Linked DNA regions of Homo sapiens: region 2 is linked to region 1. Evidence: fine-mapped expression QTL. Tissue or cell type: whole blood. Region 1 holds a variant in brackets; the other region holds the start of a gene. All regions are shown on one strand. Distances are from middle to middle.

Region 1 (8,106 bases):
TTTAAAAGAATATTCCATAATATGAGAAAATATTCATGCTATATTTAGTGGAAGGAATAGGTTATGTAAAATATACTGTTTTTGTTTGTTTGTTTGTTTGAGATGGAGTTTTGCTCTTGTTGCCCAGGCTGGAGTGCAATGGTGTCATCTCGGCTCTCTGCAACCTCTGCTTCCCAGGTTCAAGCGATTCTTCTGCCTCAGCCTCCTGAGTAGCTGGGATTACAGGCATGCACTACCACACCTGGCTAATGTTTTGTATTTAGTAGAGATGGGGTTTCACCATATTGGTCAGGCTGGTCTCGAAGTCCTGACCTCAGGTGATCCACCCACCTCAGCCTCCCTAAGTGCTGGGATTGCAGGCATAATCCACCACACTTGGCCAATATACCATAATTTTTAAAAGGGCATTTACAGAAAGACTATCAGTAAGTCTGGTATAATACATATAAACTGTGGGGTTACCAGGAATGCATATCTGCTTCTTTATACTTTTCTGTATTTTCCAGATTTTTAATTATGAATATGAATATGAGTATGAAGCTATAATAAGAAAAGTTATTTGAAAGTCACATTATCAAATTGTTCAGGTTATCATGGCCAGGCAGGGTGGCTCATGCCTGTAATCCCAACACTTTTCGAGGCCGAGGTGGGCAAATCGCTTGAGCCCAGGGGCTCGATACCAGCCTGAGCAACATGGCAAAACCTTGTCTCTACAAAAACTATAAAAATTAGCCAGATATGATGGTGCACACCTGTGATTCCAGCTACTAGGGAGGCTGCAGTGGGAGGATTGCTTGAGCCCAGGAGGCAGAGTTTGCAGTGAGTCATGATTTCACCACTGCACTCCAGCCTGGGCAAAAGAGCAGGACCCTGTCTCCAGAAAGAAAAAAAAAAGTGTCAAGTTGAGAGACAATGGTTATTTTTTATTTTTGAGATGGAGTCTCGCTCTGTCACTCAGGCTGGAGTGCAGTGGCACCATCTCGGCTCACTGCAACCTCCATCTCCCGGGTTCAAGTGATTCTTCTGCTTCAGCCTCCCGAGTAGCTGGGACTTCAGGCACGAGCCACCTCGTCCGGGTAATTTTTGTATTTTTAGTAGAGACGGGGTTTCACCATATTGGCCAGGCTGGTCTCAAACTCCTAGACCTCATGATCCGCCCACCTCGGCCTCCCAAAGTGCTGGGATTACAGGTGTGAGCCATTGCGCCTGGCCAACAATGATTATTTTTAATTTTATTCCATGGTTTTCTATATTTTCCAAATTCTTCTCAATAACATAAAAATGATTTCATATTGTATTAATTACTACAATGCAACATTGTAAGGTCGGGGGACGCTGATGGTAGTCTACCTCCTGATCCTCTAGTATGCAGTATTTCACCCAGGGTTTTCACAAGCAGTTTCTCATTTGGTCCTCAGAGGACCCTATACCTAGGTGAGGATGGCGGTGCTGCTTCTGAGAAGTCGCTGCCTCCCCTTCTCCCTTTAGCCTCCCTGGCAAAATAAGACACTTCGATTGCGGGGCCACAGTCAGTTCTGACTCTGATATCTTACGACACCTATCAGGGATCAGCCTGGACCTGTTACCTGAGCGGGGTGTGGCCTCCTTTCCTCTGCGCTTTCCCCACACCTGAAACTCCTGATCATTCAGCCCCTTACCTCTCCCAAGCTTTCAGCACGAGCTCTCCTTCTTAGCCTTCTAAATAAATAAACAACACCTGCACAGAACACTGCCATTTTCTGTAAGCTTTTCTTCCCCTTTAAAAATTGCAGTAAAATATACATAAGACAAAATGTATCATTTAAATCATTTTAAGTGTACAATTCAGTGGGGTGATATACATAAGGCAAAATGTATTATTTAAATCATTTTAAGTGTAAAATCCAGTGCCTTTAAGTCCCTTCACGATGTCGTTGCAACTGTCACCACCATCCAGCTCCGGAACTTCTTAATCATCCGTGGGTAAGCTTTTGAAGCTTTTGAATCCATAGTCTCATAACATTTTATTGCCGTCCTCATCGTCAGGTGAGGAAACTGAGGCTTTCTTCCTTACCTTGCTTTTGTGTTTTCTCTTTAACACTTGCACTCTGGCTTTTGCCCGTGGCTGTCCTGGAACTGACTCCCTTCAGGCTGTCAAAGGCCTCCTGGGGGCTGAGTTTCATGGGCTGCTTCCTGGTCTTGTCTTGTTTCTGGTCTGCAGCATTTGACAATCTTGTTTTCCAATCTCTCTTAGAAATTATCTCCTCCCCAGGTTTCCATAATACTCTCTGTCTTGAGTTTCCTACTACTAATTCTTGGGTGTTTTCTTGTCCTTTTCTTTTCATGTTTTTCTGTTTGATTGTTTTGTTTCTTTTTGTTGTTTTGAGACGGAGTCTCGCTCTGTTTCCTAGGCTGGACAGCAGTTGCTTTATCCTAGAACTTATGATGTAGCTGCCTGTGTGCCCATCTGTCTCCACAACAGAGCAAGGTCCTGGAAGCAGAGGTCGGGGGCGTGGGGGAGGTCTTGCTTGTCCTCTTTATGTCTCAGTGCTTAGTGTACCTTATATTTGGACAATGAATAAATAAATGTGCGCTGCTCTAGAAAAGAGATCATTGTCTCAATGGAGTGAAAATCAGTAAGGGGTAGGTCTCGGCTCACTGCAACCTCCACCTCCCTGGTTCAAGTAATTCTCCTGCCTCAGTCTCCCGAGTAGCTGGGATTACAAGCGCTCACCAACCCGCCAGGCTAAATTTTTGTATTTTTAGTAAGAGATGGGGTTTCACCACATTGGCCAGGCTGGCCTTGAACTCCTGACCTCAGTTGATCTGCGGGCCTCGGCCTCCCAAAGTGCTGGGATTACAGGCGTAAGCCACTGTGCCTGGCCCCTTTTCATGTTTTTATGTTTTGAGACGGAGTCTCGCTCTGTCACCCAGGCTGGAGTGCAATGGCGTGATCTCGGCTCACTGCAACCTCCACCTCCCTGGCTCAAGCGATTTTCCTGCCTCAGCCTCTCAAGTAGCTGGGATTACAGGCGTGAGCTACCACCCGGCCTCTTTTCATGTTTTTAAATTAGTCTCCCCTTTTTATTTTATTTTATTTTTTAGATAGAGACAGGGTCTCGCTATGTTGCCCAGGCTGGTCTCGAACTCCTGGACTCAAGCAGGTTCTTTTCTTCAGGCTTCTCCTTCTCCTGCCTCAGGAACTCATCCTCACTCCCTGCAACGTTTCAATAAGCACTTGCCTGGTTTGCCTGCCTCTGGCCTTGCTAATTAGACAACTACGATCTTTCTACCAGGAAAGTGTGATCCTGCCCTCAAGTCTACAAGGGCGGCCTGAGCTGACATGATAACATCTAACCTCTTTAGTTAGATATAGGATGTCCCTTGTCATCTGGCCCCTGGTGACCTCTAACAATATCCCCATCCCACTCCACCCCTTTACAGTCTGCAGTAGAACCGTCTGCAGTCCCAGTGCTGGAAGCCCAGGCTGCCTCATGCCTCCCTGTCTCTGCATACATGGTCGCTTTATCCTAGAACATATGATGTAGTTGCCCGTGTGCCCATCTGTCTCCACAACAGAGCAAGGTCCTGGAAGCAGGGGTAGGGGCGTCGGGGAGGTCTTGCTTGTCCTCTTTATGTCTCAGTGCTTAGTGTACCTTATATTTGGACAATGAATAAATAAATGTGCGCTGCTCTAGAAAAGAGATCATTGTCTCGATGGAGTGAAAATCAGTAAGGGGCAGAGTAAGGACTGGACATCAGGTCTTGGAAAGTTCTGACCCTTCCCACTATGTAAACATCCTTTCTACTGAGGGACCTCACGGGGTGACAAAGCCTTAGAGGAAATGTACGCAGTCTCTGCATGGTCCTAAGAAAATAAAGGAAATAAAGTAAGTGTTGTAATCCTGGACTGGAGTAGAAAGACTTCTTAGGGGGAGGCATTTTAAGGAGGGTGGAGAGGGGGATGCTTCCCGCCTCCGGATCACAGTCTACGAGAGCTTGCTGCTTTAGATGAGCCCACACCAGACCGAGACACAGGCAGAGCGGTGCGGCTGAAAGACATCTCTGCATCAGAAAACTTGAGTCCTGGTTTTTTCTACATCTGCCGCTGACTAGCAGATCTCAGAAGGCCCAGCAGCCTTCAGGTGTAAAACAAAGGAGTATTTTCCATCTCTTTCAACCCGAAAATCCAGAAAGTGGGGACATCTGTGTTTGAAGATTGTTCAACATTTTTCAGATTAAACTGATCCACATTTTCCAAGGTATCAAAGTGGTGGCTGCATCCTCTCATGGTGCTGGGAATCACAGACTTCTCCCCTCACCCTTGATTGTGACCTGATTCTAGAAGACGGTTGCTGATAGAAATGTCCAAGTTATTCAAGGGGCTTCTCTAGAGGAAACAACTTCCATTTCACTCTTGATTCTCTAGAGGAAATATAACTTTCGTTTCACTCTTGATTCTCGAGAGGAAACAACTTCTGTTTCACTCTTGATTTTCACTATTTTCACGTTACGGGTTGAGATAAATGGCCTTAGATTTGACTCATCGAGGAGAGAGCGATTCTGCCTAGAGTTCTTTGAAAGCCGGCTGTACTGAGTGAGATCCTAGGTCACTGCAGAGAAGGAAAGGGAAGAGAAGTGGGGAGGGAGAGGGGAACAGAGAGGGGCACGGAGAGGGACAGGGAGATTGGTTTCCTTTGACAAACCCAGCTGGTTTCCTCGGTAGTTGTGTGTGGTTTCCACCAAACCCACCTATCACTTAGTTAGGACTGCTAATTAGGGGGCAGAGATGAGGACTGCTGTCTGTAGTCGTAAAGATGGTTACTAAGCAGGAGGCTGAGCTGGTGGTTGCAGCTGACACTGGAAATTCACCCAGCTTCGCCCCCCGGGAGAT[G/A]TGCCACCCCTACATCGTAGGCAGCTGTGGGCCACAGGCATTTCGTTCTCCAAAATCCTACATTCATCTTACTTCATTTAATGTTTGCAGCCACATAAGAAGTAGAAAACATAACTTGATTTCCAGATTAGAAGACTGAAGTTTGGACAGAAAAAATAACTTGCCCAGTGTCACCCAGCGGGCACACGGAGGAGCTGGGATTCAACATCAATGACTCCAGGACCATGGTCTGTCTCCACGAGACTAGTCTACCCACCTCGATTCTCTGCCTGGTAGGCCTTCCCCACTTTTCCACCTGCTAAATCAATCACACCTGGTTGCATCTCTCCTTCTTTCCTCCCCTAACCCAAGACTCTTTTTTGTTGTTGTTGTTTTGGAGATGGAGTTTGCTGTTGTTGCCCAGGCTGGAGTGCAGCGGCACGACCTCGGCTCACCACAGCCTCTGCCTCCCGGGTTCAAGCGATTCTCCTGCCTCAGCCTCCCGAGTAGCTGGGATTACAGGCACGCGCCACCATGCCCAGCTAATTTTTGTATTATTAGTAGAGATGGGGTTTCACCATGTTGCCCAGGGTGGTCTTGAACTCCTGACCTCAGGTGATCCACCCGCCTCAGCCTCCCAAAATGCTGGGATTACAGGCGTGAGCCACCATGCCCGGCCATATCCCATGACTCTCTAAAGCACTCTGTGGTTGTTTCTGGGTTATTTTCACTTCTCCAATTAGGAGGTAAGTTTTTTGGGGTCAAAGAGCATGTTTTCGACTTTGTTTTCATCCTATCCCAAATTGCCTGGTACCAAGCTTGGTAGCTGATGAGCCAACAGGGAACCCACGAATGACATTGTATTAGAAGACCACAGGCTTTGGGCTCAAGGAATGACCCTTCCCTTTTACAGTCCTGTCCACACCTCAACAGCCCTCTCGTAGCTCGGTGGATCTCAGCTGAATGTCAATGAGCCAGAGCTTCCCCTGACCACCCAAGCCCAAGTGTTGTCCCTGGCTATTCCTCCTCGTAGCATCTCTTTTTCCTCTTCATCGGACTTACTACAACGTGTACTCATAGGCTCATTTGAGTATCTACCTTATTTTCTCCACTAAAATGTGAACCCCAAGAGGCCAGGGACCATGGGCATTTTGACTCAAAACATATTCTTTGAATGACTTTAACAGAAACTTCCATCAACTTCTCAAAGGGCCAACCACATACGCAGTGAAGAGGGTTTCAAATGATGAATCAGGGACTTTTCCCTGTGTTCAGGCGTGAACCCCGACTCACCATGGGGTCGTATCCACATGCTCTCTCTTGACCTCAGTTCTTTACTTGCAAAGTAAGGATCATGGTTCTAGTCCCATTTACTCTCATAGGCTCTTGCCTGGAGAAAGTGAAATCATTTTAGCCTTGCTGTGTTGTTAAAGCCAAGGCCTAATGCCAACGTGACTAGTTATAAGCCCCTTGAGGAGGGGCTCATGTCTGACAAACACTCTGTCTCTCTGTCCCTCTCAACATAATTTTTGTGAACAGGCCAAGTAGATAAACAACTCAAAAAAATAAAAATATACAAAATGCATACAGTGACAACGTTCCCTTGCTCCTCTGTCCACACCTCCCCAGGTCCCACCCTTAACCATTACTATTGGTTTTATTCATAGCATTCCAGAGTTTATTTTTTTTTTTTATTTTATTTTACTTTATTTTCTGAGATGGAGTCTTGCTCTGTTGCCCAGGCTGGAGTGCAGTGGCCCTATCTCGGCTCACTGCAAACTCTGCCTCCCGGATTCCAGCAATTCTCCTGCCTAAGCCTGTCGAGTAGCTGGGACTACAGGCGCCCGCCACTATGCCTGGCTAATTTTTGTATTTTTAGTAGAGACGGGGTTTTGCCACGTTAGCCAGACTGGTCTCGAACTCCTGACCTTGGGTGATCCACCCGCCTCGGCCTCCCAAACTGCTGGGATTACAGACGTGAGCCACTGCGCCTGGCTGCCATTTTAAAATATACAATTAAACCATTATGGACCACAGTCCTCAGTGTGTGATCAAATACTCAGTATTATTCACTCTTTCTATTTTCCAGAGTTTCTATATCTGCCTACAAGTAACCATGAAAGCACTTCCCCTACAGGATCATGTCTTACCCTTGCAAGCTTTCCAACTGTCTTGCTCCATGCCCAACACCAGGTAAATCTTTAGTAAATTCAGTACATTTAGTAAATCTGTTGGTGGATTTGATTAACTAATGATCTTGAAACCAACACATTGGACAAGCAACAAGGTGAGTTTGCAATGTGTGTTACAGACGGATGAAAGCACACGCTGAACAGGGCCTACTCCAGTGAACCATCATCTGCCTGCATCTTTCCTGTTCCAGTCCAAGACCAATCCGGATACTTGGGCCTTGTTTTGTTTTGCTCTTCCTGGGAAGTGTCAGTTCATTGGTCGTTACAAGGATAATAGGAGTTACTTCCTGACTGCATGAAAAGTACATAGAACAGAGCCTGGCACAGAGAGAGAAGCCAATGAGCAGCAGGAATGATGATCACAGGCAATCTTCCCTTCCGCCACCACTCACCTCAGATGACCTGGTGAGCCTTGTGTCACAGGCTGGGTACTTCCCCCGGAATTCACATGTTGAAGCTCTAACCCGCAGTACCCAGAATGTGACTGTATTTGGAGAGAGGGCCTTCTCTCCAAATAGAAGGAGGTAATTAAGGTAAAATGAGGCCATTAGTGTGGGTCCTAATCGGATATGACTGGTCCTGATGAGAAGTGGAGATTAGGATACTGACACACACAGAGGGAAGCCCATGTGAGGACCCAGGGGAGGGAGGCTGTCTGTGACCAAGGAGAGTGGCATCAGGAGAAACCAGCCCTGCCAACGCCTTGGCCTCCAACTTTCAGCTTCCAGAACTGGAGATTTGTGTCATTCAAGCCTCCCAGTCTGTGGCACTTTGTCATGGCAGCTCAAGCCGACTAGCACACCTTGCCTAGCCCTGCTTTTCTCAAATATGTTCAACTAGAGAAGTTGTCTTGATTGTTTAGAGCCAAGCCCTGTGCTGCTACAAGGGCATAGGCTGAACCAACCACCTGTCAAGGAGTTTCCATGCAGAAGGGGGTGAAGGAGGCTTCACCCTAAGGTGAGCCCCTTGACCCTCTCCCCAGGAATTCTCCAGCTATGCCTGGGGATGGAAGCTGCCTTCCTGACTACTCTTCTGTTGTTGTTAAGCGCTGGGGTCTCACCC
Region 2 (8,106 bases), 270 kb after region 1:
CATCTGTAGTCCCAGACACTCAAGAGGCTGAGGTGGAGGGACTGCTTGAACCTCAGGACGACGACGCTGCAGTGAGCTGTGATCATGCCACTACACTTTGCACTCCAGCCTCGGAGACAGAGCAAGACCCTGTCTCAAAAACAAGAAGGTAGCAAAAGAAGATTTAATATTTTCTGATAGGAATGGAAAACCAAACATCGTGTGTTCTCACTGATGTGTAGGAGCTAAGCTATGAGGATGCAAAGGCATAAGAATGATACAGTGAACTTTGGGGACTTGAGGGAAGAGTGGGAGGGGGCAAGGGATAAAAGACAACCAATATGGTGCACTGTATTCTCCTCGGGTGATGGGTGCACCAAAATCTCACAAACCACCACTAAAGAACTTACTCATGGCCGGGCGTGGTGGCTCATGCCTGTAATCCCAGCACTTTGGGAGGCCGAGGCGGGCGGATCACGAGGTCAGGAGATCAAGACCATCCTGGCTAACACGGTGAAACCCCATCTCTACTAAAAATACAAAAAATTAGCTGGGCGTGGTGGCGGGCGCCTGTAATCCCAGCTACAGGAGGCTGAGGCAGGAGAATGGCGTGAACCTGGTAGGCGGAGCTTGCAGTGAGCTGAGATCCAGCCACTGCACTCCAGCCTGGGGGACAGAGCGAGACTCCGTCTCAGAAAAAAAAAGAACTTACTCATTAACCAAATACCACCTGTACCCCAATAACGTATGGAAAAAAAATTCTGATATGTTTCTCCTGCATTTGGATGAGGATGTAAATTCAACTCTAATAAATTACAGTGTATCAAAAGGATTAAAGGGTCTCTCCCTGCATTCTCTCCTAGCTCTGTTCCATCCTACACACAGCTGCTGGATTAATCTTCCAAAACACCAATTTTCTCATGCCACTTTTCAAAAACTAGCTTCCTGGCTTCCTGTTGTCTAAAAACTAGTTTCAGATGCTTTTGTCTGGCATTCAAGAAGGTCAGTAGTCTAGAGCCTCCTAAATGTTTCACTCCTGCTCCTTCCTTCTACCACTTACCACCTGTGTGCTCTTGGGTTAGTTGTTATTATTATTATTATTTTTTGAGATGGAGTCTCACTCTGTCGCCAGGCTGGAGTACAATGGTGTGATCTCAACTCACTGCAACCTCCCCCTCCTGGGTTTAAGTGATTCTCCCACCTCAGCCTCCTAAGTAGCTGAGAGTACAGGCGCCTGCCACCACGCCCAGCTTGGGCTAATTATTTTAAGACCGGTCCCCCTGTCCCTGTAAAGATCCCACGCACCTCCTCCACTCAGTGGCTCACTGTAGCAATGCCCTGAAAGGCTGTAATTGAGTCATATTCCAGCCCCTGGACTCAGGAGTCAGGGGTGATGTCGCCACCACCTAATTGCTTGGATTGAGGATGGGAACAGTGATTCTCAAGAAGAAAACTTGGACACTATTACCAGAAGTTAGTACAACTGCCTTAAAGCACTCTGGGCAAAATTTAACAACTGTCTGTTCCAAAAATGCAGAGACATGGAAACTTAGTAACTCTTGTTGGGGCATCTTCCATCACATATGATTCACTAAGGGTATATCAAGCAAATTCAACTGTAGGAACTGGCACATTCTGAGGCATAGGGTCTCTTATGTTCCTAAATTTATATTTTACCATCGTGGTTCTAGCCACTTTTCTGTAGATCAGTCCCACTTGAGCAGCCCAGTTTGCTGGGTTTTATCTGTATGGAATGTACATATCCTTTGAAGTAAGACACATGTGGTTCAATAATGTAACTTTTTAGATTGCAGAAATTTCACTGTAACACTTACCTCAAATGGCATAAAATAAGCAAAAACATGTATTCTGTGATGAATCAAACAAAATATATTTTGAGTTGTTGTTTCCCCCATTTAAAACAGCACATTTCTGATCATTGTCATCTGTTTGTGAAAAGACATGAGACCAACAGTCCTTTCCACACTTACGGCTGCAGCCTTGTGCCCATGAGTTAAAGCCTCGGAATTTGCCTGAAACTTTCCCTGTCAATCCGAGATGGTCATGACCAAGCCACTTTGCTTCCATACATCTTCAGTGCCTCCTTCCACACACACATCTTTCCTGGTTTAAACTTTCATTTCTCCAGTACTATAGCAAAACAGTATTTGCAAATCTCTTTTGACCACAAACTCCTAACAGTCAGGGACTTCTCATTTGGATTTCCCCAGGGCTTGGAATTTTGTTTTGTTCATGGGGAGGGGGTGAGATTTTTAAAATTGCATTAATGAATGAAACCAATCAATCCATTGCTCCATGCTGTGTACAAACACTGTAATAAATATTGGTTGACTTCTTATAACTAAGGCAATAGGAGCTTCTCTCAATAAACTAAATTCCAAGGAAAGAATGAAGGTAGGAAAGTAGCTGGTTTATTTGCACCTACTATATGACAGGCCTTAGTTTAGGTTTGTTTGTTTGCTTGCCTGGAGACAGGGTCTCATTCTGTCACCCAGTGGTGTGGTCTGATCATAGCTCCCTGAGGTCTGTAACTCCTTGGCTCAAGTGACCCTCGTGCTTCACCCTCCGAGAGTAGCAGGGACTACAGGCATGTACCACCATGCTCAGCTAATTTTTTTTTTTTTTTGTCAGAGTCTTGCTCTATCACCCAGGCTGGAGTGCAGTGGCACAATCTCAGCTCACTGCAGCTCTGCCTCCCAGGTTTAAGCGATTCTCCTGCCTCAGCCTCCCAAGTAGTTGGGTGCCTGCCACCACACCTGGCTAATTTTTGTATTTGTATTTGTATTTATTTATTTATTTATTTATTTTGAGATGGAGTCTCACTCTGTCACCCAGGCTGGAGTGCAGTGGCATGATCTCAGCTCACTGATCCTCCACCTCCTGGATTCAAGTGATTCTCCTGCCTCAGCCTCCCAAGTAGCTGGGATTACAGGTGCCTGTCACCACGCCCAGCTAATTTTTGTATTTTAAGCAGAGACGGGGTTTCACCATGTTGGGCAGTCTGATCTCGAACTTCTGACTTCAAGCGATCCACCCACCTTGGCCTCCCAAAGTGCTGGGATCCAGCTAATATTTAAATTATTTTGTAGAGACTGGGTCTCAAAATGTTGCATAGGCTGGTCTTGAACTCCTTGCCTCAAGCAATCCTGCCACCTTGGCCTCCGAAAGTGCTGAAATTGCATGTGTGAGCCACCATGCCCAGCCAGTATTTTCACATAAACATTATTTCAGTGAATTCTCACAATCCTGCAGACACTTGCAGACTCAGTTTTGGTTTCTTACTTAATGTAACACAACCTTAGAGTGACAGGTCCATCAGCGAAATCCAGCATATTTGACTCCATGATTACCAAATGCACTATCTCCATTTATTGGAAAAGGAAAATTGGAGGTCACTCAAAGAGCAGTGAAGTTATGGAAATATGAAATTTTTCACATGACTCTGAGATTGAGTGTTTGGGTACTATCGGGAAATGTTAAAAATGTCCATTTTCTTTTCTTTCTTTCTTTCTTTTTTTTTTTTTTTTTTTTTTGAGACAGAGTCTCACTCTGTCGCCCAGGCTGGAGTGCCGTGGTGCAATCTCAGCTTACTGCAACCTCCACCTCCCAGGTTCAAGCGATTCTTTTGCCTCAGCTTCCTGAGTGGCTGGGAGTACAGGCATGTGCCACCAATCCAGCTAAGTTTTTTGTATTTTTAGTAGCGGTGGGGTTTCATCACATTGGCCAGGCTGGCCTCGAACTCCTGACCTCAAATAATCCACCTGCCTTGGGCTCCCAAAGTGCTGGGGTTACAGGTGTGAGCCACTGCACCCAGCCCAAAAATGTCTATTTTCAATAGTGGTTTAAAACACTCTTGGACAGCAAAAGAAATAAAAGTTGAAGGACATTGTGACAGCAAATTGATTGTATGGGAACTCTGGTGAATGCGAATCATTTTTAAATTACTTTTTTTGTAAAGTGCAAAACAACAATAGCACCCATTTGCGTCATACTTTATAGTTCGCAAAGCACATGGGAAAAATAAAGGTAATGATGGGGATCGTTGCAATTCATAGGAAAGGAGGCACGAGGAAATGAAAATGAAAGGGAGTAATAACTACGTAACTAGTCAATCTTCCTTAAAAAAAAAAACCCTTAAAATATACCACCATCTTCTATTTGATATAATGCAGAATGGGAATGATAAAAACATGAATTACATTTCAGAGTTTCAAAAAGCAAACCAGCTTTATAGCAATGCTTGAGGTTGGGCTGCTAACAAGCTCACTCAACTAGTGTTTCCTGACGGCCAACGTCAGAATAATTCCATCTCCATGAGAAGTACAGAAAGAACCACAAACCAAACCTCCAAATTGATTCTAAGATAAAATACCCTTAAAAAAAATTTCCCTTCCTATCCGAAGGCAGACCAAGAGGAAGTTTATCCTCCCACCTACAAATTCCCCAGAGAGCTTTCATCTAGAAGGTTTGACTCTGGCCAGACAACCAGCGAGCATCTTCTCGCAATCTGTTGCTTCTTCCATGGCAAACTCCAGAGAATTAAGAAGCCAAACTCAACATCGCCATGGGCCTCAGGACGACTAAACAGATGGGGAGAGGCACTAAAGCTCCTGGTCACCAAGAGGGTATGTAGGCATTTGCTGTCTTCCTGGATTTCTCAGAGCTGAGTTTTTAGCCAGAGGTTGCTTATTTACGATAATTCTTGGATATATTATACACTAAATACTATTATTATCTTTTTCGACCCGACTTTTATCTTTCTGTTCTTATGTGTGAAGGCAGAGAAAGATTATTTAGAGCTCTTCAAAGATTCCTATTTAATTTAAAATGCCTGTCGCCTTCCTATAATAGGCTTATGATGGATGATAGCTTTAGTTAAAATGTAGCAATCTTAAATATATTCTTCATAACCAATTCCAACGTGTTCTCACTTAAGTAATGGGTATAAAACCCCACTTAAGCGTAATATTTTAAATATTTGAAGCCATCTTTTCTGAGAGAACCCGAAGCTGTTTTTTCTAGAGAAGCTGTGAGTGTGTATTGGGCGACTTCTGTTCACTCCTTTTCTGCAGCACTCACCCTGGAGGTCATGTAGTAACTAATGCCAAAGAAAAATCAAAATAGAAAGTACCAGCGTGTGCCATCATGCAGCGGCAGAGCCTGCTTAAAGATCAGGAAATTTGTCTAAATATCAGATCGCCGGCGGGCATCTCAGCCCAGGCCTGTGTAAGGGGAGTTCTGGTGTCTCAGCTGAGGGCGTGAGTAGGGAGCCAGGAAAGCGACCCGCGACTGCAGCCGTTTCTTAAGGCCAGTCCTTCGCTCGCAGTCTGTCCCGGGCGGCAGTCGTGTCAGCCCCCCGCTAGGACCCGCCCAGGGGGACGTGGGTACCGGGCAGGACGCGCGCTCTGGGCGCTGGGGACGCCCGGGACACTCGGGGCCCCGCCTTGCGTCCCAGCCCCGGGTCGCGGCACCCCGGCTCCCGCCCCGCGCCTCTGGAGGGAGGTACCGAGGGACGCGCAGCGAAGGGGCTTTGCTAATTGCCAAAGCAGGAAGTGAGCTCGTGGAAGAAGCGAAGGAGGAGAAGAAGAAGGGAGGGGAAGGCGGAGGAGGGCAGGGGCGCGCAGAGCCACGGTTTGCTCCAGGCGCGTCGGAACCGCAGGACTTTTCATCCCCGTGGTCCCACGGTCCTCCCGCGCCCCGGAGGCCTGCCAGCCCCGCTCGGACGCTCGTTTGCCCCTAACCCGCCGCCATGGCTTCACCGGACGACCCTCTGCGCGCAGGTAAAGGGACACAGCGCCGCGCCCGCTCCTGGAGCGAGCACCGCGGGGCGGGAGCTCGGGAGGCGCTCGCAGCAGCCGCAGGGCTATCGAGGCCGGGCCTCGGCGACCCCCGAGGGAGGCCCGGGAACCACCCCCGACCCAGGCGCCAGACCCGGAGTCGCACGGGGCTCCCAGTCCAGCCCCGCGAGCGGCTGCTGACCGCCCCTCCCGCGCTCGCCAGGGCCCCTGCCCCGCGTCAGCCACCGCGCGCCTTCCCCCTGCCCATGCCGCAGCCCCCGTGGCTTTTGTTCTGGACTCGGGATGCCAGGTTGAGACACGTCCTGCAAACCTCTGGCAGAAATGGGCGCAAGGGGGTGGATTTCGTTTTCGCCTCCCGGGCTTTTTCTTTCTCCCCGCTCACATGCCTTCTCATTACTCCTCTTCCTCTCTCCCATTGCACTTTGATGAAATGGTTTTGTCTGTCTAAACATTGGCCCTCGGAGCTATTTCATCAGATAGTATCCGCAGAATCGAGAGGCGGATCCCACCTGTGGGATCCCATCTGTGATTAGAATGGCCTCTAGTTCTGTCTTTATTTTAAAATATTGTGTGTTGGTACCCGAGGTCGGAGTGGAGATTTTTCTCTATTCTCTCACGTGAATCTAAAATCCGTCCCAGACCTCGCTTTCCTGGAGTTCTCTCTCTCCGCTGTCCTATAACCTAGACGGTGACATCCGTGGGTGTTTCTTGAACACACGAATGAATGATCTATCCCTCAGAGTACACTGGGGCTTTACTTGGTTTTGTTGAGGTTGGAAACACTGAAGAGAGTTACACAGAACCTGATATAACCGTTTAGATAAACGCGTTTCCTATTTCATTTCTTGAGCTTGGGCAGGGGCCGAGTTTGAATGTTCCATCCTTAAATTGTGGCTTCAGCAGTCAAAAGGAGACAGTGTGTCTGCAGGTGGTCAGAAGACTACACCCAACAACTAAGTTGGCATTGTGATGGCTGGGTTTGGGGGCGTTTCTTGGAAACTTCAAAGAAAGATCTACCTTTTTTTTTTTTAAGTGGGGATTGTTAAACATTTTATCAATTGGATGCGGAAAATAAATACATTGTCTAGATATTCTTCCCCATCCCCATACCTATTGTTTGAAAAAACAGAAGGGGAAACAAAGGGAGAAACCCTCCTACTGCCCCATCCCACTCCACTCCTACCCTAGCATCCACCTCCTTTTCTGAGAACTGAATTGACAAGGTGCCAAGGGGTGTTTTAGGCTGGATTTTACTACTAGTGGCCTCAGATCTCATTAAATGATGATTGCAGGGGTGGGGGGTGGGGGAATTCAAAAAGATCTTGAGAGAGATACACTGCATGGAGATAAAATGTAAAATCTACTTGGGCTCCCCTAAATCGACAGTACCAGGCAAGATGGGGGCTGGGAAACAGCTCAGCAGTGACCACAGTGTGTAAAAAGCTCAGTGGCTGGGTGCAGTGGCTCAGGCCTGTAATGCCAGCACTTTGGGAGGCTGAGGCAAGAGGATTGCTTCAGGCCAGGAGTTTGAGATCAGCCTTGGCAACATAGTGAGACCCTGACTCTACAAAAAATAGAAAAATTAGCCAAATGTGCCAGTGCATACCTATAGTCCCAGCTACTCGGGGGGCTGAGGCAGGAGGATTGCTTGAGTCCAGGAGGTCGAGGCTGCAGTAAGCCACTGCACTCCAGCCTGGGTGACAGAGCAAAAACCTGTATCTCAAAATAAATAAATAAATAAATAAAAAGCTACAGGTTCCAGATTTCCCAAGATGGTGTTCTTAGTCTGCCCAGCCCAGCCAAAATGGATGTGCACAACCTGGAACAAATGGGCAACATGGAACAAAGGGATTTCAAAATCCCAGGACATGTGGAGGAGTGAGAGGACAGAGGATATGATGATAAGAGGGCGTCATGTGGAAAGAATCTGTCTCTTTGACTTCAAGAGGTAGAACCCAAACCTGTCGGTGAAAACTTTAGAGAGAGATGGATTTGGGCTTCCTACAAAGAGAAAGGAGGCCTCCTAAGGGTGAGAGCTCCCCACCAGTTGGCAGAGGATGCTGAAGAACATACTTGACCATCTGAAAGATGATCCAAATGTCCATTCCCGCTCTGGGACTCTATTCTGTCTATAAAATGAGCGCTCCTCCATTTAAACACAGGCGCACACACACACCCCAATTTCCCCTTCCTAACATATTGTTTCGTTTCTGCAACCCACAGGAGACATCCCCTTACTCCTATTTCTGTAATGAAACCATAGATGGTGCCCATATCTTGAGCTCGCTTTACCCCAGACCAAGTGACC

What was found. PIP is the estimated chance that this variant, and not a neighbour inherited with it, causes the effect.
Region 2: it holds the start of EDARADD, and the variant in region 1 is fine-mapped to the expression of EDARADD in whole blood (TOPMed, PIP 0.99).

Annotation. Positions count from the first base shown.
Region 1 is chr1:236,116,322-236,124,427 of GRCh38, forward strand. No RefSeq gene overlaps it. Among named protein-coding and RNA genes, the nearest start is that of GPR137B, 22 kb to the right of the region's middle. RefSeq lists an enhancer at 4,357-4,476. The variant G/A (reference allele first, on the strand shown) is at 4,874.
Region 2 is chr1:236,389,881-236,397,986 of GRCh38, forward strand. It overlaps EDARADD (EDAR associated via death domain), which reads left to right and starts at 4,406. Exons shown (of 6, transcript NM_145861.4): 1 at 4,406-4,625. The coding sequence starts at 4,565. RefSeq lists silencers at 1-120, 5,278-5,687 and an enhancer at 5,028-5,077.